7 linked regions of the Homo sapiens genome follow. The protein of the gene in region 4 interacts with the protein of the main gene of each other region in a biochemical or structural test. Each region holds a gene or a part of one and is shown on either strand. Other genes may lie near its edges.

The links.
Region 1: the proteins of LASP1 (region 4) and TRIM15 form a complex in vitro, tested with the Homo sapiens proteins (one study listed by BioGRID).
Region 2: the proteins of LASP1 (region 4) and COPS5 form a complex in vitro, tested with the Homo sapiens proteins (one study listed by BioGRID).
Region 3: the proteins of LASP1 (region 4) and EHMT2 form a complex in vitro, tested with the Homo sapiens proteins (one study listed by BioGRID).
Region 5: of the proteins of LASP1 (region 4) and PPP3CA, one has a biochemical effect on the other in vitro, tested with the Homo sapiens proteins (one study listed by IntAct).
Region 6: the proteins of LASP1 (region 4) and DNMT1 form a complex in vitro, tested with the Homo sapiens proteins (one study listed by BioGRID).
Region 7: the proteins of LASP1 (region 4) and ZYX form a complex in vitro, tested with the Homo sapiens proteins (one study listed by BioGRID).

Annotation. Positions count from the first base shown.
Region 1 is NC_000006.12:30,162,413-30,166,345, forward strand, and holds the start of TRIM15 (E3 ubiquitin-protein ligase TRIM15), read left to right. Parts: upstream 1-1,133; 5' UTR 1,134-1,189; coding exon of another isoform or gene 1,190-1,191; 5' UTR 1,192-1,272; coding exon 1,273-1,653; intron 1,654-3,933.
Region 2 is NC_000008.11:67,052,134-67,055,633, forward strand, and holds part of COPS5 (COP9 signalosome complex subunit 5), read right to left. Parts: intron 1-3,500. UniProt on the Homo sapiens protein: Probable protease subunit of the COP9 signalosome complex (CSN), a complex involved in various cellular and developmental processes.
Region 3 is NC_000006.12:31,891,199-31,894,698, reverse strand, and holds part of EHMT2 (histone-lysine N-methyltransferase EHMT2), read left to right. Parts: intron 1-1,036; exon of another isoform or gene 1,037-1,337; intron 1,338-1,788; coding exon 1,789-1,873; intron 1,874-1,964; coding exon 1,965-2,005; intron 2,006-2,136; coding exon 2,137-2,292; intron 2,293-3,500. UniProt on the Homo sapiens protein: Histone methyltransferase that specifically mono- and dimethylates 'Lys-9' of histone H3 (H3K9me1 and H3K9me2, respectively) in euchromatin.
Region 4 is NC_000017.11:38,908,058-38,911,557, forward strand, and holds part of LASP1 (LIM and SH3 domain protein 1), read left to right. Parts: intron 1-3,500. UniProt on the Homo sapiens protein: Plays an important role in the regulation of dynamic actin-based, cytoskeletal activities.
Region 5 is NC_000004.12:101,022,918-101,026,222, forward strand, and holds the end of PPP3CA (protein phosphatase 3 catalytic subunit alpha), read right to left. Parts: intron 3,145-3,305; coding exon 2,948-3,144; 3' UTR 501-2,947; downstream 1-500. UniProt on the Homo sapiens protein: Calcium-dependent, calmodulin-stimulated protein phosphatase which plays an essential role in the transduction of intracellular Ca(2+)-mediated signals. Many of the substrates contain a PxIxIT motif and/or a LxVP motif.
Region 6 is NC_000019.10:10,139,454-10,142,953, forward strand, and holds part of DNMT1 (DNA (cytosine-5)-methyltransferase 1), read right to left. Parts: intron 2,768-3,500; coding exon 2,575-2,767; intron 1,737-2,574; coding exon 1,652-1,736; intron 1,457-1,651; coding exon 1,328-1,456; intron 876-1,327; coding exon 593-875; intron 365-592; coding exon 223-364; intron 1-222. UniProt on the Homo sapiens protein: Methylates CpG residues. Preferentially methylates hemimethylated DNA. Associates with DNA replication sites in S phase maintaining the methylation pattern in the newly synthesized strand, that is essential for epigenetic inheritance.
Region 7 is NC_000007.14:143,387,845-143,391,344, reverse strand, and holds the end of ZYX (zyxin), read right to left. Parts: intron 3,127-3,500; coding exon 3,006-3,126; intron 2,857-3,005; coding exon 2,687-2,856; intron 2,579-2,686; coding exon 2,400-2,578; intron 1,489-2,399; coding exon 1,368-1,488; intron 768-1,367; coding exon 663-767; 3' UTR 234-662; downstream 1-233. UniProt on the Homo sapiens protein: Adhesion plaque protein. Binds alpha-actinin and the CRP protein. Important for targeting TES and ENA/VASP family members to focal adhesions and for the formation of actin-rich structures.

The sequences.
Region 1 (3,933 bases), on a different chromosome or scaffold from region 4:
CTCCTGTATTGGACAAACTAGTTCCTGGGCTGCACTCGTGGCAGGAAGAGCAGAGATTGGATGGGAAGGGGAGGTAATAAAGTGATTAGAGTAAAAAGGGAGCAACCACAAGGGGCTAGGCTGATCACCCAGTGGGAGAATGGGGGAAGGCCTGGTTTTATCCACAGATGTGTGCATGGGTGAAGGACCGTGGCTGCAGATCTTGGTCTTGGCATGAGGTGTGGGAGGAGCGTAGGGCTTTAAGCCAGGAGACTGGGATCGTCCTTAACGTGATACTTTCTAGCTTTGTGACCTTTGGAAAGTCACTTTACATTTGGAAAGTCAGTTTACATTTCTTTCTCTGTAAAATGAAGGTAATAATGTTTGCCTAGAGGGTTATTAAAATTGAATGTAGTAATATAAAAATACTAAACCCTAGATAAATGTGGTTGAAACTGATTATCTGACTAATCGTTTTCTAATGTGTATCAACATAAATCATTTGCATTATGGTTTCTTGCCTTCTCCCCGCTACAGTAAAAATAAATAAATAAATAAATAAATAAATAAATAAATAAATAAATAAAATAGTCCAGTGTTACCCGAACCCCAAAGGGGACTGTTGTGCCAGGTGGTGGGGGATTTGGGACCGTAGGAGGGGCCACCATGGGCAGATGTGGTGAGGGAGGAAAGGAGAGCAGAAGAGGGGACCCGATGAGCAATCCTTACACCCTACCTGCAGTGTCGAAACAGCGTCCCGCCCACACACTTCCGGCAGAATCTCCCGAAGTCCACACCTCTCACTCCAGCCTGGACTTTGATGCTGTGGGCACGCCTCAGAGCCAGAAGTTTATGGCTCCCACCTGCTCAATCTGACAGGAAGCTTCTGCTCCCCAGTTCTCCCCAGCCACTGTGGTCTACAGATTCCAGGAAACCCATCCCCCTGTGACCTCATGGTGTGCTCTGTTCTCCACCCTAGGGACCAGAAGGAGCCAGGAGTAAAGAACTGGCTTACTTGGCCGCCACTGGGAAATTCTGGGTAATTCGAGACGCCCTGGAATTTGGACCCACTCCGCTGATAGGTGGTGGCCAGGGTTCTAGGGAACACAAGAGGCGGAGCCAGGTGGCTTCCCTGTGCTGGCATTCTTGCCTCTCTCTCTCTTTCTCTCTCTCTGTCTCTTAGCCTTGCAGCCGTTTCCCTCTGCGATTCATGTAAGTGTGACTCGATTTCAGGGAAAGGGAACTCGCGTGGGCTGAGGAGACCGGAGTGGACGGGCTGGGGAAGGCACCGTGATGCCCGCAACCCCGTCCCTGAAGGTGGTCCATGAGCTGCCTGCCTGTACCCTCTGTGCGGGGCCGCTGGAGGATGCGGTGACCATTCCCTGTGGACACACCTTCTGCCGGCTCTGCCTCCCCGCGCTCTCCCAGATGGGGGCCCAATCCTCGGGCAAGATCCTGCTCTGCCCGCTCTGCCAAGAGGAGGAGCAGGCAGAGACTCCCATGGCCCCTGTGCCCCTGGGCCCGCTGGGAGAAACTTACTGCGAGGAGCACGGCGAGAAGATCTACTTCTTCTGCGAGAACGATGCCGAGTTCCTCTGTGTGTTCTGCAGGGAGGGTCCCACGCACCAGGCGCACACCGTGGGGTTCCTGGACGAGGCCATTCAGCCCTACCGGGTAAGAAGTGTAGCTTTACCTAGGGCCTGTTTGGGGCAGGATGATGTCCTGTTATGAGGGGAGGAAATCGGGCGGGGATCTGGATGAAAGGCTTCCACATCAGGGAACCCTAAGGTTACAGGGACTTTCGAGGCATTCCCAGACTGAAGGCAGATAGGGCTCCACTTGGATGTGTGGTAGTTCCTGGTCTGGGGGGAACTTCAGCTCCAGCTCTCAGAGGACCCCACAGAGGTGGAGTGCAAAGAACTGTAGCCTTGGCTTCACTCACTATGGAAAGAAAGCTCCAATGCCGAGTGGGATCTTCTGCAGATTATGGGCAGGGTAAACTTGTTCTCCCAGGATCCAGACTGGAAATGGGGTTTATAGGGCCCTGACTGCCAGGGCGCAGAGGGGAGGGAGGAGCTGGGAAGGGGAACCTGCTAGCACTGCTCTTCTTCTTGAGAAAGGGAGGGTGGCAGTAGTCCAGAATTGTGAGAATTCCCCATCTGGCCTTGGGGCACTTTCCTGTCAGCCTCTCAGATCTCTCTCTTGTCATCCAGTCACCAGGTCTGGAAGTGGTTACCTTAGAAACATCTCCCAAATCTTTAATTCTGCCTTATCCTCACAGCCAGGTTCTCCCTATCTCTTGCGCAGACTTTGCAGTCTCCATGGCATTTCCTGTCTCCATTCTCACCCTTTCCAGTCACCTTCCAATCTGCTGGGAGACAGATCCTCCTAAAACACAAAGTCACTCATCTGCACAAAATCCTCCCATGTATACCTAGTGCCCAAAGAAAGTCCAAGGTCTTTAGCAAGACATTCAAGGCCCTTTGCAGTCGGGATCCTTCCTCCCTGTCCGGCCTCATCGCTCAGCCTCCCTCCTCAAGGCACCACGTGTCTGGCCAGACTGAGCTGCACTTGCTGTTTTTTCCTGAGTTGTCTTATTCATTCCTGCTTCCAATACTTTTTGCACATAGTCTCTTCCTCCTAGAATACTCTTCTCCCTTCCTCCCACCTCTCTCTCTGTTTTTAAGTATACAATTCAGGGGCACTAAGTCCTTTTCTTTTTTTTTTTATTATACATGTTCTGGGATACATATGCAGAACGTGCAGGTTTGTTACATAGGTATATACGTGCCATGGTGGTTTGCTGCACCCATCAATCCATCATCTACATTAGGTATTTCTCCTAATGCTATCCCTCCCCTAGTCCCCCAAGCCCTGACAGGCCCCGATGTGTGATGTTCCCCTCCCTGTGTCCATGTGTTCTCATTGTTCACCTCCCACTTATGAGTAAGAACATGTGGTGTTTGGTTTTCTGTTCCTGTGTTAGTTTGCTGAGAATGATGGTTTCCAGCTTCATCCATATCCCTGCAAAGGACATGAACACATCTTTTTTATGCCTGCATAGTATTCCATGGCATATATGTGCCATATTTTCTTTATCCAGTCTATCATTGATGGACATTTGGGTTGGTTCCAAGTCTTTGCTATTGTGAACAGTGCTGCAATAAACATATGTGTGCATGTGTCTTTACAGTAGGATAATTTATAATCCTCTGGGTATATACCCAGTAATGGGATTGCCAGGTCAAATGGTATTTCTCATTCTAGATTCTTGAGGAGTTGCCACACTGTCTTCCACAACGGTTGAACTAATTTACACTCCCACCAACATTGTAAAAGCATTCTTATTTCTCCACATCATCTCCAGCATCTGTTATTTCCTGACTTTTTAATGATCACCATTCTAACTGGTGTGAGATGGTATCTCATTGTGGTTTTGATTTGCATTTCTCTAATGACCAGTGATGATGAGCTTCTTTTCATAGGTTTGTTGGCCACATAAATGTCTTCTTTTGAGAAGTGTCTGTTCATATCCTTCACCTACTTTTTGATGGGGCTGTTTGTTTTTTTCTTGTAAATTTGTTTAAGTTCTTTGTAGATTTTGGATATTAGCCCTTTGTCAGATGGATAGATTGCAAAATGTTTCTCCCATTCTGTAGGTTGCCTGTTCACTCTGATGATAGTTTCTTTTGCTGTGCAGAAGCTCTTTCATTTAATTAGATACCATTTGTCAATTTAGGCTTTTGTTGCCATTGCTTTTGGTGTTCTAGTCATGAAGTCTTTGCCCATGCCTATGTCCTGAATGGTATTGCCTAGGTTTTCTTCTAGGGTTTTTATGGTTTTAGGTCTTACGTTTAAGTCTTTAATCCATCTTGAGTTAATTTTTATTTCAGGTGTAAGGAAGGGGTCCAGTTTCAGTTTTCTGCATATGGCTAGCCAGTTTTCCCAACACCA
Region 2 (3,500 bases), on a different chromosome or scaffold from region 4:
TAATAAGTATTCTTCATATAGAGGAGCTCAAGCTAGAACTGCCTGAGAAGCCTCAGGGAAAAGGCAAGGTGTAGGGTAAACATTTTTGAGTCTATGGTATGGATATGTGGAGAGCAAGGAGGGCATTAGGCAGAGAGCATCAACACACAAAAAGGAAAGACATGTAAGAGATAATAAGGCAATGGGTTTAGCTGGAAAATTTAGCAAGAGAAGAATTATGTGAGGGGAAGCTAGAAAGCTATGCTGGGGTCTAGGTGGTGAAGGATGTTACACAAAAGGTTAAGAATTTTTTTTTTTTTTTTGAGACAGAGTCTTGCTTGGTCACCCAGGCTGGAGTGCAATGGCACAATCTCAGCTCACCACAACCTCTGCTTCCCGGGTTCAAGCGATTCTCCTGCCTCAGCCTCCCGAGTAGCTGGGACTACAGGCTCCCTCCACCATGCCCAGCTAATTTTTGTATTTTTGGTAGAGATGGGGTTTCACAATGTTGGTCAGGCTGGTCTTGAACTCCCAACCTCAGGTGATCTGCCCGCCTTGGCGTCCCAAAGTGCTGGGAGCCACAGTGCTCGGCCAAACTTTGGGAGACGGAGGCAGAAGAATCGCTTGAACCCGGGAGGCAGAGGTTGAAGTGAGCCGAGATCGCGCCACTGCACTCCAGCCTGGGCAACAAGAGCAAGACTCTGTCTTAAAAAAAAAAAAAAAAAGAAATTTAAACTTTATCCTGTAGATACCCGGGACTCTTGGAAGGTGCTTGAGTAGAATGGAAGGTACTTGAGTAGAGTAATAATACAGTCAAAGGGGTGTTTTATAGTACCATTAGGAGATATTACAGGAGAGAAACTGGAGGCAGGGATTCCACAAAGGAAGCCACTGCAGCAGGGAAGATGAGAAGAGACAGAGGTTCAGACTCAGAGGTTAGTGGTGCGAAAGATAAAGACACATAGGCACCCTTTTAAAAACAGAATGCTTTTTCTGAGCCGCAATCTCACTCTGTCACTTAGGCTGGAGTGCAGTTGTGCTATCTGGGCTCACTGCAACGTTTGCCTCCCAGGTTCAAGTGATCGTTCTGCCATAGCCTCCCGAGTAGCTGGGATTACAGGCGCCCACCACCATGCCCAGCTAATTTTTTGTATTTTTAGCAGAGACAGGGTTTCACCATGTTGTCCAGGCTGGTCTCGAACTCCTGACCTCAAGTGATCCACCGCCTCAGACTCCCAAAGTGCAAAAATGCTTACGGATTAAAGTTTAGCGTGAGGAAATAAAACATAATAAATTAAACACATCATGCTGGGCGTGTTGGCTCACGCCTATAATCCCAGCACTTTGGGAGGCTGAGGCAGGTGGATCACCTGAGGTCAGGAGTTCGAGACCAGCATGGCCAACATGGTGAAACCCTGTCTCTACTAAAAATACAAAAATTAGCTGGGTGTGGTGGTGTGTGCTTGTAATCCCAGCTACTCGGGAGGCTGAGGCAGGAGAATCGCTTGAACCTGGGAGGCGGAGGTTGCAGTGAGCCGAGATGGCACCACTGTACTCCAGCCTGGGTGACAGAGTGAGACTCCATCACACACACACACAAAGAACATTTTTGGGCCGGGCACGGTGGCTCACGCCTGTAATCCCAGCACTTTGGGAGGCTGAGGCGGGCAGATCACGAGGTCATGAGATTGAGACCATCCTGGCTAAGACGGTGAAACCCCATCTCTACTAAAAATACAAAAAATTAGTCGAGCATGATGGTGGGCGCCTGTAGTTCCAGCTACTCGGGAGGGTGAGGCAGGATAATGGCGTGAACCTGGGAGGCAGAGCTTGCAGTGAGCCGAGATCACACCACTGCACTCCAGCCTGGGTGACAGAGCAAGACTCCATTTAAAAAAAAAAAAAAAAAAAGAACATTTTAGCAATTCCAGGTTCAAAATTCTAGTCTTTAGCAATGTAGGCCGCTAGCAAAGTAGCTATCCCTCTTTGGTAGGCTCATATTTCAGAGTGGCAAGGTAAGGTGTTTGCCAAAAGAAAGTTATTTAAGGATTGGTACGCAACACGATCTTAAAAAAAAAAGTTATTTAAGGAAGACAGAAGGATAAACTAACGGAATAGACAAACAGGGAAAGTAGATCTGTTTGAATACGGAAAACATAAACTGTCTCAATCTTTTTTTGTTTTGAAGTATAAACCTTTGATACAACTCAATATAAATAAAAAAAATTGAGAGTTCCTCTGAAGATTAAAGTATCACAGCAAAGGTATTTCCAGGCTTAGGAGCAATTCTCTCAAACAGGAATCATTTAAATTCTTTTTAATAGGGCAAATTAAATAATTAACACTAAACTTCTATCTGAATATATATTTGTTTCTATAGCTGGGCACAGTGGTGTGCCTGTAGTCCCTGGGCAACCTAGTGAGACTCCATCTGAAATAAAAAAACAGGAACCAAAAAAAAGGAAGAAAAGAGAATTGTATTTACAGAAATATGTCAGAGATTATTGAAAACCACATATATTTAAGAATTTAATTTTAGAAATTCTAGAATTTTCTAAGAACTTCTAAATAGAAAAATTAGAGCAGTAGTAGCACATGGGTAGCCAAAGTATTCTTTGAAGTTGGCATAAGTGGTACAGAAAAAGAGGGCAGTAGATAATCATTTATTCATTTAAGCAGCAATTTTTTTTGGTGCCCTCTTCTATGTGGCATGCCCTGTTTTAAATCCAAGGATACAGCAGTAAATTTGTGTTCACATTCTAAAGGGGTCAAAAAAAAGATGTCAAAACATATCAGATGGTTACAGTGCTAAGAAGAAAAAGCGGGGAAAGAGGAAACAGAGGTGTTACTTTACATAGGTAAAATACTACACCATGATCATGCCTAATGAACTAATGAACATTTTCTGTTAGCACGACCCTGTAAACAGATACTCAATGCTTAAAGCAGTTAGTGAGCCACATGGAAATAAGAGCGTTCTAGGCAGAGGGAACAGCAAGTGCCAGTGCTCTGAGCCATGAGCCTGCTGGCACATTTTACAAACCATAAGGAAGTCAATATGGCTGGATTGCAGACCAGCAGAAGTTCAGTGATAGGACATGAGCTCACAGAGGCTGTAGGAGCCAGACCACACAGAGGTGTGCAGTCTGTGATAAGGACTAAGGATCTTGTTCTTGGTAAGATGGGAAGTCATTCTGAAAAGGAAGAGGATTATCCGGCTTACATCTTAACAGAATCAGTCTGGCTGAAAACAGAGCTTTAAGAAGTGAAGGGCACAAGTAGAAAGACTCGCCGGAAGGCAAGTGCTTGATTGGGGCTCCAGATGGCAGTGGCTTGGGTGAAAAGGATAGTAAAAGAGGTGGTGAGATATATTTAGAAGGTAGAGAAAACTGTCCCCATTGGCTTCTTTAACATTAAAATAATTTAAGATATAATTCATACATCATAAAATTCACCATCAAAAAAGGTACGTAGGCCGGGCACAGTGGCTCACACCTGTAATCCCAGCACTTTGGGAGGCC
Region 3 (3,500 bases), on a different chromosome or scaffold from region 4:
CAGAGCGAGACTCAAAAAAAATAGCACAATTCTAACAATATGCCACCATCACTGCTGATGAACTGGATAAGAGGGGACTAGTGTCACGTAAAATTTACCATCTAAAAAACAATTTTAGGCCAGGCGCAGTGGCTCACGCCTGTAATCTCAGCACTTTGGAGGCCGAGGCGGGAGGATCACCTGAGGTCAGGAGTTTGAGACCAGCCTGGCCAACATAGTGAAACCCTGTCTCTACTAAAAATACAAAAATTAGGCCAGGCGGGGTGCCTCACGCATGTAATCCCAGCACTTTGGGAGGCCAAGGCAGGTGGATCACCTGAGGTCAGGAGTTCGAGACCAGCCGGACGAACATGGTGAAACCCCATCTCTATTAAAAATACAAAATTAGCCGGGCATGGTGGTACATGCCTGTAACAGTCCGCTACTTGGGAGGCTGAGGCAGGAGAATCGCTTGAATCCAGGAGGCAGAGGTTGTAGTTAGCCGAGATCCTGCCATTGCACTCCAGCCTGGACAACAAGAGCAAAACTCTGTCTCAAAAAAAAAAACAAAACAAAAATTAGCCGGGCGTGGTGGCATGTGCCTGTAGTTCCAGCTACTCAGGAGGCAGAGGTGAGAGAAACGCTTGAACCTGGGAGGTAGAGGCTGCAGTGAACTGAGATCGCGCCACTGCACTCCAGCTTGGGCAACAGAGTGAGACTCCATCTAAAAATTTAAAAATAAAATAAAAAACATTTTTAAGTATATAATTTAATGGTATTAAATACTTTCATCATGTGCAATCATCAGTCACCATAACTCATCTTGTAAAACTGAAACTCTGTACCCATTAAAACATAACTCTCCATTCCCTCCACCCCCTAGCCCCTGGCAAGGACCACTGTCCTTTCTTTCTCTATAAATTTGAGTAAGTACTTTATCTAAGTGTAATCATACAGTATTTATCCTTTTGTGACTGGCTTATTTCACTTAGCATAATGTCCTCAAGGTTCATCTATGTTGTACCATGTCAGAATTTCTTTCCTTTCACCTGGGCAGCATACCAAGACCCCATCTCTAAAAGAAGTTTAAAAGAATGTTTCAAAGGCCAGGCCCAGTGACTCACGCCTGTAATCCCGTACTTTCTGGGGAGGATCACTTGACACCAGGAGTTCAAGACCAGCCTGGGCAACATGGCAAGACCTCTTCTCTACCAAAAAAAAAAATTAAGAAGACATTAGTTAGGCATTGTGACATGTGCCTGTAATCCCAGCTTCCCAGGAAGCTGAGGCAGGAGAATGGCTTGAGTCCAGTTCGAGGCTGAAGTGAGCCATAGTCATGCCACTGCACTCCATCCTGGGTAACAGAATGAGACCTTATCTCTTAAAAAAAGTATATCTTTCCTTTTTATGGCTGAATGTTATTCCATTGTGTATAAATGCCACATTTTGCTTATCCATTCATCTGTCAGTGGCACTTGAGTTGCTTCCGCACCTCAGCTGTTGTAAACAGTCCTGCTGTGTATATGGCCACATATAAAAGGTCTTTTAACTTTATTAAGCTTTGTTTTCTCATCTGTAAAATGGAAAAGGGCCTGCTCTGCATGGTTGCAGAGATGAGTGAGTGTTAGTGTGCTTGACACTCTTCCTCTGAGGAAATAGCACCCGTGGTTGCCAGTTTGTGGCTACTGGAGCCTCACATGGCATTTGGAGGTGTGGCTCACTACCCCACCCCCGCCTGGGGCTCCAGGCTAACCCAGGCAAAACTGTAGGTGCTCTCTGACCCTCAGTGTGCTCCCTCTCGGCCCACAGCCCCCGGTCCCTGAGAAGCGGCCCCCTGAAATACAGCATTTCCGCATGAGTGATGATGTCCACTCACTGGGAAAGGTGACCTCAGGTCAGTCCCATCCCCCACCCCCGGTGGCTTGATGTGGTCTGTTCTGAAGGTTTCGGTGATAGGCCCCACACCATTCTCTCTCTTCTTCCAGATCTGGCCAAAAGGAGGAAGCTGAACTCAGGAGGTGGCCTGGTAAGCAGCAGAGGCAGAGCCTCTACCCCTCGGGGGCTGCTCTGAGGGAGGGTCAGAGGTGGGGCTGCATCCCATCCTCAGTAGAAATGCGCAGGGTGTCAGTGGCCTCAATTTTTCTGATCTTTTTCTAGTCAGAGGAGTTAGGTTCTGCCCGGCGTTCAGGAGAAGTGACCCTGACGAAAGGGGACCCCGGGTCCCTGGAGGAGTGGGAGACGGTGGTGGGTGATGACTTCAGTCTCTACTATGATTCCTACTCTGTGGATGAGCGCGTGGACTCCGACAGCAAGGTGAGACAGAGCTGGTCTGCCCTCCCCGCCGGTGCTCCCCCAGGGCTGGGGCTCACTGTCCAGTCCTCCTTGTTCCCTGTTTTTCTGCTTTCTGTCCTTTTTATCTTCTGAATATCCACTAAGTCATTGCCCCATGCTGTCTATAACTCCTTTTTTTTGTGGGGGGAGACGGAATCTCATTCTGTCGCCCAGGCTGGAGCGCAATATCACGATCTGGGCTCACTGCAACCTCTGTCTCCAGGGTTAAAGCAATTCTCCTGCCTCAGCCTCCCGAGTAGCTGGGATTACAGGCACCTGCCACCACGCCCGGCTAATTTTTGTATTTTTAGTAGAGACGGGGTTTCCCTGTGTTGGCCAGGCTGGTCTCTAACTCCTGACCTTAGTTGATCCACCCACCTTGGCCTCCCAAAGTGCTGGGATTACAGCTGTGAGCCACCGCGCCCAGCTGTAACTCATTTTCAATGTGTATTCTGCCCGTTTCATCCACAAAGGTGGCCACCACCCTGCACATGGGATTTAGTATTCTTTTTTTTTTAATCAGCTAATGAAATGACCATTTAACAGACATGTACTGTTTAAAAAAAGAAAACAAAAAAAGAAATGACCAGAAAGCACTTTTTTAAAACATACGTTATGCTGTTTATATAAAATTCAAAAGCATTGCATTGTCATTTATTTGCTTATTTCGTTGCTCTTTGTCTGGTTTTATCTTATATGTTTGCCTACACAGTAGAATGTTTAGTCTCTCTGATTTTGCCTTTTATTTAACATTTTATCATGAAAACTTGCAAGCATAATCAAAAGAGTAGAATAGGGAGCCCCCATGTACCCAATACACAGCTCCAGCCATTATCAGTACACAGTCCATCTTGACCCATCTGTACATCTCCCAGCACACACACCTACTAGGTTATTTTAAAGCAAATCCCAGACCTCATATCATTTTACCTAAACATATATCCATATAGATTTGTAAATATAAGGCCTCTTTTTGTCGTTCAACATCATTACACTACTGTTTTCACACCTAAAAAAACTTACCGATTTCTTAATACCATCAAATATCCTGTCAGTCTTCACATTTCCTCAGCTCTCACAAATGGTTTTTGTCAAGATCCAAATGAGGCCCACACCTTGATTTGATTAACATTTGTCTTAGGTCAGCCAGGCACAGTGGCTCACGCCTGTAATCCCAATACTTTGGGAGG
Region 4 (3,500 bases):
TCTCCTCCCAGAGGAAAAGGCTCCCTGTCACCCCATCGCTAATGCAGATAGCGTCATGTCCAGGGAAGCTGTCACACATTCATCTGGGCCCCCAACATCAAGGACACCTGTCCCTGCAGGCCCCCTGCTGGCACCTTCGGGGCCCAGGGCAGGCCCCTGTCCATTCCGTGTCTGCACTTCCCTCCCTGGTCACAGGTTCTCAGGGGCAGGCTCTTTTCCTTAGCAGAAAGGAAACAAGGGAAGCTGACCTTTCCCACCTCAGAACAAAAGTTGGAAGGGCAGGTGCCTCGTGAGCCTGGAGGCCTCAGGAGGGGTGTCCCCTTCCCTTGTGCCCTCCCCGCCACCAACACCAGTGGACAGGGATCACTAAGAGAGTGGGGCTCGGGAGACTCACCTTCTGCGCTGGGTCTGTGAGAACATCACCTGGAGTGCCCCTCCCAGCGGATGCTGGGGTCGGTTGGATTTTCAGCCTGGCCAGGGTTGGCTGCCTCACCTCAGGAACAGGCTTAGCCTGTGCTGCCACGTGGGTGCCGGTCCTTGCTCTGGCCTGAAGGGAGGGGGCCGGGAAAGGAGGGACTGATCCTGACCCAAACCCCTAAGTAAACTGCCCTCTGCGTCCAGACTGGACTCCCCCCAGACTCTGTCCAGGCCCTTACCACTGCCCTCCCTGTGCCCCCAGCCCGGGCTGCAGGAACTATTGGCTGTTCAGCCAGCAGGAGCAGCAACCATGCAGGTGTTTCCAGCTGTTAACGTGTAAGCCCTGCCTGGCCACGTGCTTGCTCTTGCCTTTTGTGCACAGCCAGTGCCAAGGGGGAGAGGAGGCAGCAGAGACGTTGTGCGGAGGGGATGCCCAAAGGGGACTGCCCAGGCTGGGACAGCCCTGATGGGGCAGGGGCGTTCCAGGAAACAGCAGGTTTTGCCTCTCCTCCTCTTCCCACCCCACTACTCCCACCCCATTTTCCCGGATCAGGAAAAGGCAGGCCAGCATTCTAGGGAACAGGAAGTGAAGTTGGCTTCCAGCTAGGTGCCTGCCAGGGCCTGGAGGAAATTCCTGCAGGCCTGAGCCCGTCTGGGAAGGACCAGTTTCTCTCCTTGTCCTGGTGTCCTGCTTTCTGAGTTTCCCCTGAGGGTGGGGGAGAGCTGTCACTCTCTTCACTCTATGTCCCGCTTCCTCCCCCATCCTCATGGAGCACTCAAACCCTGAACCCTCACACCTTTCTATGGTTGTACCCGTCCCCACCAGTTTCCTCTCTGGAAAGTGAAGAGGAGGCTGGGCACGGTGGCTCACGGCTGTAATCCCAGCACTTTGGGAGGCCGAGGTGGGCAGATCACAAGGTCAAGAAGTTCAAGACCAGCCTGGCCAACATGGTAAAAGCCTGTCTCTACTAAAAATACAAAAATTAGCCGGGCGTGGTGGCAGTTGCCTATAATCCCAGCTACTCAGGAGGCTGAGGCAGGAGCATCACTTGAACCCGGGAGGCAGAGGGTGCAGTAAGCCGAGACTGTGTCACTGCACTCCAGCCTGGGCGACAGAGCGAGACTCCATCTCAAAAAAAAAAAAGAAAGAAAAGTGAAGAGGATAGAGCCCACTAGGGGTCATCAAGGTGTGGGACAGGCAGCATGTTCCTACAGGAAGAAAACTCTAACTCCTGGTTCTGGTTCTTTTTCATCTCATTCATTCATTCATTCATTCATTCATTCATTTGTTTTGAGATGGACTCACTCTGTCTCCCAGGCTGGAGTACAGTGGCTCGATCTCAGCTCACTGCAATCTCCGTCTCCTGGGTTCAAGTGATTCTCATGACTCGGCTTCCCAAGTAGCTGGGATTACAGGTGCCCACCACCATGCCTGATTAAGTTTTGTATTTTCAGTAGAGACAGGGTTTCACTGTGTTGGCCAGGCTAGTCTTGAACTCCTGACTTCAAGCAATCTGCCAACCTCGACCTCCCAAAGTGCTGGGATTAAAGGTGTGAGCCACCGCACCTGGCCATCTCATACTTTCACAATTCATTCTTTGGTGCAAGTTTTACAATATACATTCTATATTTGTCAAGTGATAACTTCCATGTAACTTATAAAATACACATAATTCAGGAAGATTGTGCTAAAATACATTTAACCAATAGGAGTATGCCGTCAGAATATTTTGGCAAACAAGGGTCACTAAGTTTTTTCTGTAAAGGGCCAGGTAGGAGGTATCTCAGGCTTTGTGGCCATATGGCCTCTGTGGCAGCAGCTCAGTTCTGCAGTTCTGCCATGAAAGCAGCCACAGATAAGAGGTAATTGAGTGGGTGTGGCTGTGTTCCAATAAAACTTTATTTCTGGAGGCTGAAATTTGAATTTCAGAGAAATTTCATGTGTCATGAAATATTATTCCTCTTTTGGTTCTTCTTCCCCCCCTCCACCGCCCCCTGCCAAGCATTAAAGAATGTGGAACCCGTTCTTAGCAGCCGGCTGTGGGCTGGATTTGGTCCATGGACCATAGATTCCCAGCTTCTGCTCTAGACCACCCGTTCTCAGACTTGAAGCCTGCTTCAGACTTACCTGGAGAGCTTTTTTCCAAAATGCATATTCCAGAACCCCAGCCCTGATTTTGTAGATTTTCTGGAAGGCCCCAGAACCCGCATTCTAACAAGGAGCCCAGTTGAGTCAGACACAGGTAGTCTGGAGTCCACTTTTTTTTAAACAGAGTCTCAGTCTGTTGCCCAGGATGCAGTGCAATGGCGTGATCTTGGCTCACTGCGACCTCCGCCTCCAAGGTTCAAGCAATTCTCGTGCCTCAGCCTTCCGAGTAGCTGGGATCACAGGTGCCTGCCATCATGCCCAGCTAATTTTTGTATTTTCAGTAGAGACGGCATTTCACCATGTTGGCCAGGCTGGTCTCAAACTCCTGACCTCAGGTGATCCACCAGCCTCAGCCTCCCAAAGTGCTGGGATTACAGGCGTGAGTCACCGCGCCCGGCCAGGAGACCACATGTTAAGAAGCAAAGCTCAAGGGTCTCCAGGATCCTGGTCTGTTCTCTTCAGCCAGTCCTGAGGCCTGGGGTGTGCAGTGCTGTGGGAGACCCCTGCATCAGAATAACTGGCTCCTTCACTACCTTCCAGGAGCTTCCATCCAGTGGGGGTGGGGGACACCACCCGCCAACAGCACAGCCCAGTCCCAGGTGCTATGGAAGCCCTGGGTTCAGCCTGGAGCCAGGGCCAGCGTCCCGAGGATGAGGTGCCGAGATGGACCTTGAAGGATGAGAGAAGCCTGGACTGCCCTTGAGTGGCGAGGGTGGGCTGCCTCCAGGTTGACCTTAATCCCTTCCCTCCCTACCACCATGTGTCCAGATGACCTTGGGCAGGTCCCTTAGCCTCTCTGGATATCGGGATATGACATTGACTACCTCAGAGACTTGTGGGGAGGATTCGGCGAGCTGATATGCATGAAGTGTATCAACTAGGGCTGCTGGCTGGTATCTCCTTCCCTTGTCTTCCCCCACCACCCCAGCCAGGG
Region 5 (3,305 bases), on a different chromosome or scaffold from region 4:
GCAGAGATGTTTCTCTTCCCCTCCAGTTCGTTCATCTCATCACACAAGTTTGGTTTCTGAAGATTTTTCTTTTTCTCAAATACCATTTACGGAGAACAGAAGTAGAGGATATTTTAGACAGGAAAAACAGCTGATGCAGGGTCCGTCAAATCTAGCTCTTCGTTCTTGAAAACAGTTGAAAATTCAGCACTGAGTTTGAATCCCATGAGAGTGAAGTCACCGTGGGGACTGGGTGCAGGAGGTCGGGGGACAGGAGGTTGTTTCTGTGTGTATGTCTGTGTCTGTGTGTGTAACCAGAGGTACACTGGCATGAGCAACTAAAGATTTCTATAGTTTCTCCAAAAGTGAAGGAGAGAAACCTAATAACTGATGGTCTAGAAAGGTTATCCCTTTTGAAGAAATAACTAGTTCTCTATCAACTTTTTTTGAGAGACCAAACTATTATGGAAAAATACACAGTATTACTTTCCTAACCACTCATCAGAAAGACCAAGCAATACTCACATCAACTGCTTATTTTAATGTCAAATGTTTATTTCTATGCCATAGTTGCCTCAGCACAATTTGTAAAAGAAAGGAATCCAAAAAAATGAATTTTTTTTAGTCAGGATATTTTCTCTGCAGTTATAAGAAAGAAAATAAACACCATGATACCAGAATCACCATTTCTTTCACATCATCACTCTAGTAAGTTGCATCTAAATATTTTCCTTGGTTGCCACTTTTTTTAGGATGGAGAAATATCCACAGGAAAAAATGTCTGAATTCATTAAAATAACCTTGGGATAGTCTTTGCCAGACTGTATCGAGAACATCTTTGTTTGGGTATGCTATATCGCTAATTGCCATATTCTTATTATTTAATATAACAGGCATACTTTATTATATAAAACAAAGTGCACTAAAGATGAACAATGTTACAAACAAACTGAAATTTGGTGTATCTTAAATCTTCGGGTGATGATTAGATAGTAGCTGAAGCGTGGGTATACAAATTTCTTGTTAATACAAATGCAACTCTTTTCTGTGATGAAAATGCACTTAGTAGCCTAGTACTTTTTGCTTTAGCAGATAGATAGGGCATCCAATACAACTGAAACAACCTGATAACAAATTAATTTTATTTTTCAATAAAAAGGAATGCTCTGGTTTTTTAACTGGCTCCTTGAGGAAGCCAGAAGATGGCATCTGCTCTTTAAACAGGCTTCTCTTATCTGATTTGAGACACAAATCCACCAAGATTCTTTCTTACAGTGGAAGTAGGCACCACCCCTCAGATCACGAGGCCCCTAGGAAGAAGCCTGTGGAAATCAGCCTGTGATGTGTGGTGGTGGGCCAGCACCTAGAAGACACATGGTGGTTGTGCACATAAATCCCTTCAGCGGACTCAGTGGAAGGATGAGAATTCTGTAAGTTCATGCACATTTTATTGAGTAGTAATATAAAATGCTTTTTCTTTTTCATTGTTACAAGTGCATGCTTTGATTGCCAACATGTCAGAAGTCAAATTACAAAGGCAAGGCTTTAGGCTGTAGTGAATTACTTGGGCACTTATACAATTGTTAAAAAATATGAATGGACTTTTGTTGTTGTTGTTTTCAGAATGAACCAGTTGTAACCCGTAACTGATATACAAAGGGAAAAAAGTGAAAAAAGTACATATTTTGTGGCACATGACAGAACAGAACAAAATAACTAAACTGTTATGACATTAACAGTTGCCATGCATTTAGAGTTTCACATGTAACTACAAACTTATTATAATTTCACAAGGTTTGCTAAACATGCTAACCATCTACATGTGCATTGACAAGCTTATGTTAAAAACTTTAAAGAATACTCTCCCCTTTAGATTTTTTCAAAGCTTTTTTTTGATTACAAAATTTCAAAGGCATTAAGCATTTTAGAGAATATAAAGTACGCCAGTATACATACATTTCCAGTATATGTCAGACCACTAAGCGCATTACAGTCCCATACAGGCCGATACAGCCATTTTTTTTTTCTTAAAAAACATGCATAGGCAGATTTTTTTTTTTTTTACAGAATATAGATGCTTTATCACTGTACTTAATATGGTGTCTTGTTCACTATACTTAAAAATGCACCACTCATAAATATTTAATTCAGCAAGCCACAACCAAGACTTGATTTTATCAACAAAAACCCCTAAATATAAACGGCAAAAAAGATAGATATAATTATTCCAGTTTTTTTAAAACTTAAAAGATATTCCATTGCCGAATTAAGAAGAAGATAAGTGTTATATGGAAAGAAGGGCATTCAAGCACACTAAAGAAACCTGAGGTAAGCATAATCTGTACAAAATTAAACTGTCCTTTTTGGCATTTTAACAAATTTGCAACGTTCTTTTTTTTCTTTTTCTGTTTTTTTTTTTTTTTAAGACTGCCTAATTCAGTTTATAGCCATTGTCTGACAAGAGTAGCAAAACATTATCAATAAATAGTCCTTAGTTTGTACATCATTTTGTTAAAAATGTTTGATGTCATCCATTTTTAGTGCTGCGACTGTAAACGTACAATAGAGTAAGAAATTAGACAAAGTTTTCATGTCCAGTAACAGAATAAAAGGCCTTTCATTAACCTATCTAGAAGTCCCCAATGCAGTAGGAAAACATGTTCATTCCCCTAACATTGCAGTATATACTAGCATTAGCTTTCTTTTTAAAATTTTTTTTCTCTATAAGCATTTTTAAAAGGCATACCCAAAAGAGGTGTTTAATCACCATCCCCACCAAAATATAGTTTATTATCTCTCTCCCTCTTTTTTAATGATAGTGTAAACTGAATCCAATTCCTGGCCCCCAGAGCAAATAAGCTACTGTCAGAGGCAAGAACATCCAACTGCTGATATGCAGCAATCCCCATCATGCCCCGCAGCTCAAAAAAAAAAAAAAAAAAAAAAAAAAAAAGTGAACAGGAAGTGGTCACTGAATATTGCTGCTATTACTGCCATTGCTGTCCGTGCCGTTAGTCTCTGAGGTGAGAGCCTTGTTGATGGAGTTAAGGTTGGCGTCAGAGGGCATGGCATCTCTGCGAGGCGGCATCCTCTCATTAATTCGGTCTAAGCCCTTGGCTTCCTCGAAGCTAGTGATCTTATGTTGTGGTGAAAATCCTTTGATAGCTAAACAGAAAATCATTAAAAAAAGAAAACCAGGATTATCCAAAGGAAAACAAAGGGCACAGCTGTTGCAGCAGGTGATGTTAGAGATTTCTCAGTGAGAGGGAATCCTTCAGTGAAGAACAAAGTGACGGGACCTGCACACCACACAACAGACTCCTTAC
Region 6 (3,500 bases), on a different chromosome or scaffold from region 4:
TTCGAGAACACAGCTCAAGAGACACTAGCGGTGGACTTGCTGGGGGCCGGCTGAGCACGCATCTCCCCTGACTCCGCCAGTGGGACAGAGCACCATGCCAGCCTCTGCTGCCTGGATGGCAGGCCTATGCCATTGAACCCTGCCTTCAGTAAGGGATGGCTGGCTGCTGGCCGGGTCACGTGCTGGCCACATCTGTCTGCCCGCCCCAGCCCCAGGGCCCACCTGCAGCACGCCGAAGGTGCACTGATAGCCCATGCGGACCAGGCAGCGGAGGGTGAGCTTCAGGACCATGGAGCGCTTGAAGGAGACAAAGTTCCTGACATTCTCCAGGAGGAAGAACCGGGGCCGGTAGTAGTCGCAGTAGCTGTAGGGGGCAGGAGAGACTGCAGGAGTCACCTCCACAGACAGAGGGAAGAAACGACCCACTGTGCCGGAAGCCCCTCACGAATGTTATCAAAGTCTCTCCCTGGTGAGAGCTGAGCTGTGAGCTTCCGGGGGGCAGAGGCCTCAGTGCAGGGCGAAAATGACCACTGCTGACATGCGGCACAGCCCCGGGCCGTCTGGCAACACTGGGGGGCTTCTACCCGTTTACCTGAGGAAGGAAACCACCAGAGAGTTTTTGAACTTGGAGTAGGTGCGCGAATTGAAGCGGTTCATGCCGCTGAAGCCCTGGCAGGGCGGCCCGCCGCACAGCATCTCCACGTCTCCCTTCTGGGGCAGCCGCTGGCCGCGGGAGTTGGTGGTCTCCCCAGCCATGACCAGCTTCAGCAGGATGTTGCAGTCCTCTGTGAACACTGTGGAGCCGGGGTTGTTCAGCCGGAACGCCTGGGCCGCAGGGTCCCACATCTCGATGGCCCACAGCGTGTCAGAGATGCCTGGCAGATCAAGCACGAAGCCATGCTTTCAACTCTCCAGAAGATTTTTTTTTTTTTTTGAGATGGAGTCTCGCTCTGTCACCCAGGCTGGAGTGCAGTGGTGTGATCTTGGCTCACTGCAAGCTCTGCCTCCCAGGTTCAAGCGATTCTCCCACCTCAGCCTCCTGAGTAGCTGGGACTACAGGCACACACCACCACGCCCAGCTAATTTTTGTATTCTTATTAGAGACGGGGTTTCACCATGTTGGCCAGGATGGTCTCAAACTCCTGACCTCATGATCCACCCACCTCGGCCTCCCAAAGTGCTGGGATTACAGGCGTGCGCCACCGTGCCTGGCCTCGGAAGGAGATTCTTGAGTCAGGAAGGTGACCGGGGTTGGAAGTCGTTTCAGGTAGCACCTGCCCGGTCTGGGCTCACCAGGTATTCAGAGATGGAGCCTACGGGCGCTCACCTGCTTGGTGGAATCCCTCCGACAACCCCCCGCAGCCAGAAAACACATCCAGGGTCCGCAGCTTGGGCAGCTTGATCTCTATCTCTGGCTCGCTCGGCTCACAGGCTTGGGACTTGGGCTTGCCCTTCCCTGGGGGAGAGAGGCCAGAGGCTAAACCCGATCCTCAGAGTCCAAGTCCACCTTGCTCTCAAGCGCCTTGTTAACTCAGGCGGCCTCGCTGTCCCAGAGTCAGTAACACCAGAGGTGGTTTTACACTGAGGGATTCACAGGCAGCCTCCAAGTTACAGAAGAATAACTTGAAAAGAAACTCATACAATGACGTACCTTTTCCCTTGCCCTTCCCTTTGTTTCCAGGGCTACGGGCATGGTTGGGAGGATCTTCAAAGCTTTTGCTCTTTGCATTATAGGCCTGAAAAGGAGAGAACTGCAATCGTTTGGGAGAGAAACGCACTGTCCCCTCTCTAACGCAGACTAGTAAGAAGGCAATTTGATAGTCACTTAATTTCTCCCTCAGTGGGGCCATGACCAATTAGCCACCAATAAGAGTAGTTTGACTTTGCTACAATAGAAACTTAAAACAATCCATTTTATTAATACTAACATTTGATCTGGCTGACACTGAAATGCCTATTACAAGCACTTGAGAGTACCTTCTAGAACAGGAAAAAGTGCTATGCAGAATCTGCTGTCCAATTGGGCTACCTCATCCATGCCTGGGAGAACGTGGATGTATCGTTTTAAGGTAACAACACGGAAAGGCCAAGCCCCAACAATTTACAAGTCATGAGCTTGATCAGCTGACTCGTGGGCCCTCTCCATAACGAGGGCCACCCGCACAGGCATGTGGGCTGGGCCTGGACGTAGGCGCCTGGCCCAAGGGACCCAGGAGCAGGGGCACCTTCTCCAACTCATACTAAGACACCAGTCAGGCTGGTGGAAGCTGCCTCATGGTCCTCAACGTTCAGTTGCACCAAGACACTAAAACGTTAGGTTCTCTAATGACGTACTTTTTAAAAACCAGGAGTGTTAAACTCCGGGACCACTTGAATCTCATACAACTTGTGCTCTGGAGAACCCTGCTCAGACCCCCGTAAAGCTCCTGCAGAACAGCTTCACGTCAGCCAACCACCCACTTCTTACAAAAGCTGAAACCCTGCAGCCAAGCCGCCTTGTGTATAACCCGACATCAGACTCCTTCTGGCCAACTTTGACCCCGAAGCCTTCCCTCTAGCAAGCAGGGGCACCACCTCGAGGAAGTAGAAGCGGTTGGGGCCGCCCATGGAGTACACCTGGACGCACTCGGGCAGGTCCTCCCCATACTCCACGGTGCAGCGGCCCTGCACAGCCTTGAAGTCCACCACGGCCTCCTCGTCGCTCCAGTAGAGCAGGTTGATGTCTGCGTGGTAGCTCGCTGGAGTGGACTTGTGGGTGTTCTCAGGCCTGCGAGCGGGAGAGGCCTCGTTAGGAGCTCTCCTTTGTGGTGAGCTTATGCTGAATTAAACAGTACCATGTTCCTGGGGTGCTCAGGGAACTGCAGGGTAAAGACCCCCTAGTTCGAGAACCGCAGGGTAAAGACCCCCTCAGTTAGGGAACTGCAGGGTAAAGATATCTCCTCCCCACACTGGGGAACTGCAAGGTAGACTCCCCCCCATTTAGGGAACTGCAGGGTAAAGACCCCCCCTAGTTAGGGAACCACAGGGTAAAGATCCCCCAAGTTAGGGAATCGCAGGGTAAAGACCCCTCCCAGTAAGGGAATCACAGGGTAAAGATATCCCCTCCTCACATTAGGGAACTGCAAGGTAGATTCCCCCACAATTAGGGAACCGCCAGGTAATGACCCCCGACCCAGTTGGGAACCGCAGGGTAAAGACCCCCCAGTTATGGAACCGCAGGGTAAAGACCTCCCCAGTTAGGGAGTCATAGGGTAAAGACCCCCCTACTTAGGGAACCGCAGGTAAAGATAACCCCTCCCCAAATGAGGGAACTGCAAGGTAGATTCGCCCCCAATTAGGGAACCACAGGGTAGAGACCCCCCAACCATTAGGTCAGCTTGGCTGCTTGCTCTGCACGCCTGGCCCTGCCCTGCTGTGTCCGCCTGCCGGTAGCAGCCTCTCGAGTGTGTTTCTCTCACCTGTACCACTCACAGCCCTTGTTTTATTTCCTGTTATTACAA
Region 7 (3,500 bases), on a different chromosome or scaffold from region 4:
TGCTGCTTCTGCCCACTTTCAGGAGAACCCTGCTCTGCACCCCAGAAAACCTCTTTGTTTTAAAAGGGAGGTGGGGGTAGAAGTAAAAGGATGATCATGGGAGGGAGCTGAGGGGTTAATATATATACATACATACACATATATATATTTTTGTAAATAAACAGGAACTGATTTTCTGCCTCCATCCCACCCATGAGGGCTGCAGGCACTACAAAAGAGCTGACTACTGAGAATTCTGGAAAACAAGGTTTTTTTTTATTTGTAGCTATAGCTACAACTTGGCAGCATGGGGGAGGGTGGGAATGTCCTGGAGGGTCTCCCAGCCCTCCGCAAGCAGAGTACAAAGGCTGCTCGGGGGGCCGGCCGAGGGCGCGGGTGCAGCAGTGAAAGCAGCAGCACTAAACCTGGTGCCCCCCTCAGGTGGGGTGTCTGGAAGACGGTGGGCAATCCCTGCAGGATGGGCGAGGACCAGACCCCAGGGCGGGGATCCTGCATCCCTAGACCATGTTGGGTCCTGGGTCAGGGCACCTGGGATGCTAGGGAGGGGTTGGAAATGGGAGGGGCTAGACATCAAAACAATAACTGAGGTGGGGGCAGGTGGTCTCAGTGTGGGTGGTCCACAATGGGGCATGGACTGCGGTCTGAAGAGGGCCTGTCCTCACTCAGGTCTGGGCTCTAGCAGTGTGGCACTTCCGACAGAGCACGTGACCGTCCAGGGGGAAGCAGCCATTGTCATCTGCCTCAATCGACAGGGGCTTCCCGCAGTCCTGGGAAGAAGGAAGGGTGAGGGGCACTGGACCGGAAGGCCCCTGCTCTGCTCCACCCTACCCCACCCCATCCAGCTCCATCTTGGAATTAGAAAGATGCTTCATGGCTCAGAGCTGGTGTCATCGCTTTTTCCAGCCACACCCAACTCCCCATCCCTATCCTACTTCCAGTCACCCACTAGGACCTTCCTGCAAGAGGGCAAGCAGTGGGTAGAGCTGCTCCCAAGGTGCTTGCTCCCCTGCCCACCACCACCCTAATAAAATAGAGGTTGGCTCACCTCCATTCGAAGACCTCTTCTCTCAGCTCCTGTTTCCCCATCCCCTACCACGGTAAAACACCATGCCCTTCTTCTCTCCTATTGGCTTGTCCCATTTCTTGGCTTATCCATGACTCAAAGTGACCTCAGAAGCCCCACAGCCCCATTTCCTGCAGTGGCAGGAAGCATTCTGGCAGGACAGATGGGGTGCCACCATGAGCCACCCTCAAAATCACAGCCCTGTTTCCTGAATGCTGGTGCTTTCCACCTCCCAGTTAGTAAGCAGCATCTCCCGCCACCTCCTGGTCAGAACCTGCCCAAGGAGTCCAGAGGGATGGCTGACCTCACACTTGTAACACTTCATGTGGAAGTTCTTGTCCAGGGCGACCACTCGCACAGTCTCATCTCGGCCAGGCTCAGGCATGATGGGCTCAGAGCAGACGGAGCACCTCGGGGCGTACTGCCTGGAAGGGGCAGAAAGGGCCAGCCGAGTTAGCCAGGGCTTTCATCCCCGGTGTGCGCACGCATAAGCCAGGTTGGGCAGCAAGGAAGCAGACTTCTCTGCCCTGCATCTCCAGGTGAAGGAAGCTCACCAGAAGGGCCTAAGAGTGAGACACCATGACTGGCCCTCATCAAAGGGAATTTCCTGCCTCACCAGTCACTCTCCCAAAGCAAGGGAGCCTCCCACACACCTGCCACGGTGTTCTCTCCCACTCGACCCTTACTGTCCCATTCACACTGCAGCTCCTGCAGAAAGCCAGCCCTGAGGTACCCCTCCCATCCCATCCTGGGTCCCTGACCCTCACCTTCCCCCAATCCTCCCACCCCCATGCACGTTGCCTCTGCCCTGACTGTCTGGCACTGTGGAGGGATGTGAAGTTGTGGCCACCCCAGATGGAATCCTGAAAGTGTTTACCCAAACACTCTGTCAGAGGTGGGGGTCAGATTCTGCACTGTTCCCACAGCTGCACTGAGGTTCTGCGGGTCAGCCTGAAAAAGTAGCCACCTTCTAAACACTATTTCTGGGGAGAAACCAGAAATCCAAACAGCTGATCTCCAAAAGAACTTTTAGAACCCAGCCTGTGTGTGAGATGAAGTCACTCCAGCACACTTCACGAAATGCTGACATACACCCACAATAAGCTTCAGTGATCAAGGGCGAGGGAGGGACCAGACAGCAGCAGGACTCGATGCCCAGGCCTAAGGCCCCTGGACAGCTACATCCCGATGACTTGGTCCCTGCTGTTTACAGACAGGACATGGGACCAGAAAACACCACCAGGGGTTTGGGGCTGTCCTGAGGCTAGGGTAGCAAGCAGCCGGGCTACCAGACCAAGCACGCCGGGAACCCAGAAGGCAGGTGGCAGGTCCTCACTTGTGGTAGTCGGGGACACAGTGGGGCCGGTTGGCCTGGTCCACGATGAAGGAGGTGCCCTCCAGGGGGCGGGCGCAGACCACACAGGTGAAGCAGTGCGGGTGATAGGCCTTGCCCGTGGCCCTCAGCATGCGGTCAGTGATGGGCTCCCCGCAGGTGTTACACTTCTCCAGGGTGTCCTGAGGAGGCAGCAGGAGGAGGTTGGCAGGGAACCGGCACCCCACAGCAAGCTTCCAGGGCCCGACTGCCCAGCACAGCCCAGCACAGCCCAGCACAGCCCGACTCACAGTGTAACAGCCCTCGCAGTACGGCGCCCCCTCCAGACTGTAGAACTGCTGGCCCTGGAGCTGCTGCGCACACTGGTGGCAGGTGAAGCAGGCGATGTGGAACAGCTGCCCTAGAGCGCGGACGGCTGGCTGCGCCCGGGCCAGGGGTTGATGGCATCGGCCGCAGAGTTCTGGGAAGGCCAGAGAAGACAGCAGTAAATAGAAGGAAGTATGTAGAGCTGCGAGGGATCAGCCAGCTCAGATAGGGAGTGGAGCCACAGCCCTGGCCCCCACCGTGATGTGGGGGCAGGGTGGGGGTGTCCCGGTGGGGTGGGCTCACCGTTGACAGCCACATTCTGCCTCTGAGGATGCTCCATGTCCTGCATTAGCTGCTGGGTCAGCTGCTCCAGCTCCTCCACCTCCTTCAGAGTCAGGGGCCCTGGGGCCCCAGGGGAGCGCACCTGCAATCCCAACATTTTCCTCACACTCTAGAGGGCTGCTGCCTCCAAGAACCTTCCCAGGCCAGCCTACCCGGCTTCTTCCGATGAGGCTTAGCTCCCAGCTCGTGTCCCAGATGCTCAGGCTTGACCCTTAAAGCTTCTCCCTCGTCCCCCTACCCCCGCCATCCCCAGCACCACACAAATAACAGGGGAAGGGACCTAAGCCTGGATCTCGTACAGCAAGACATTTCCACCCACTCTGCCCAAACCCCCTGAGCAGTCACAGACAGGCCAGAATGACTGGGCGGACGGAGGCCACGCACACAGCAGCTCGGGTCACTGAAGCACCGGACACTCCAGGGCCACGCATCAACTCCACAGAGCATGCTCGGACA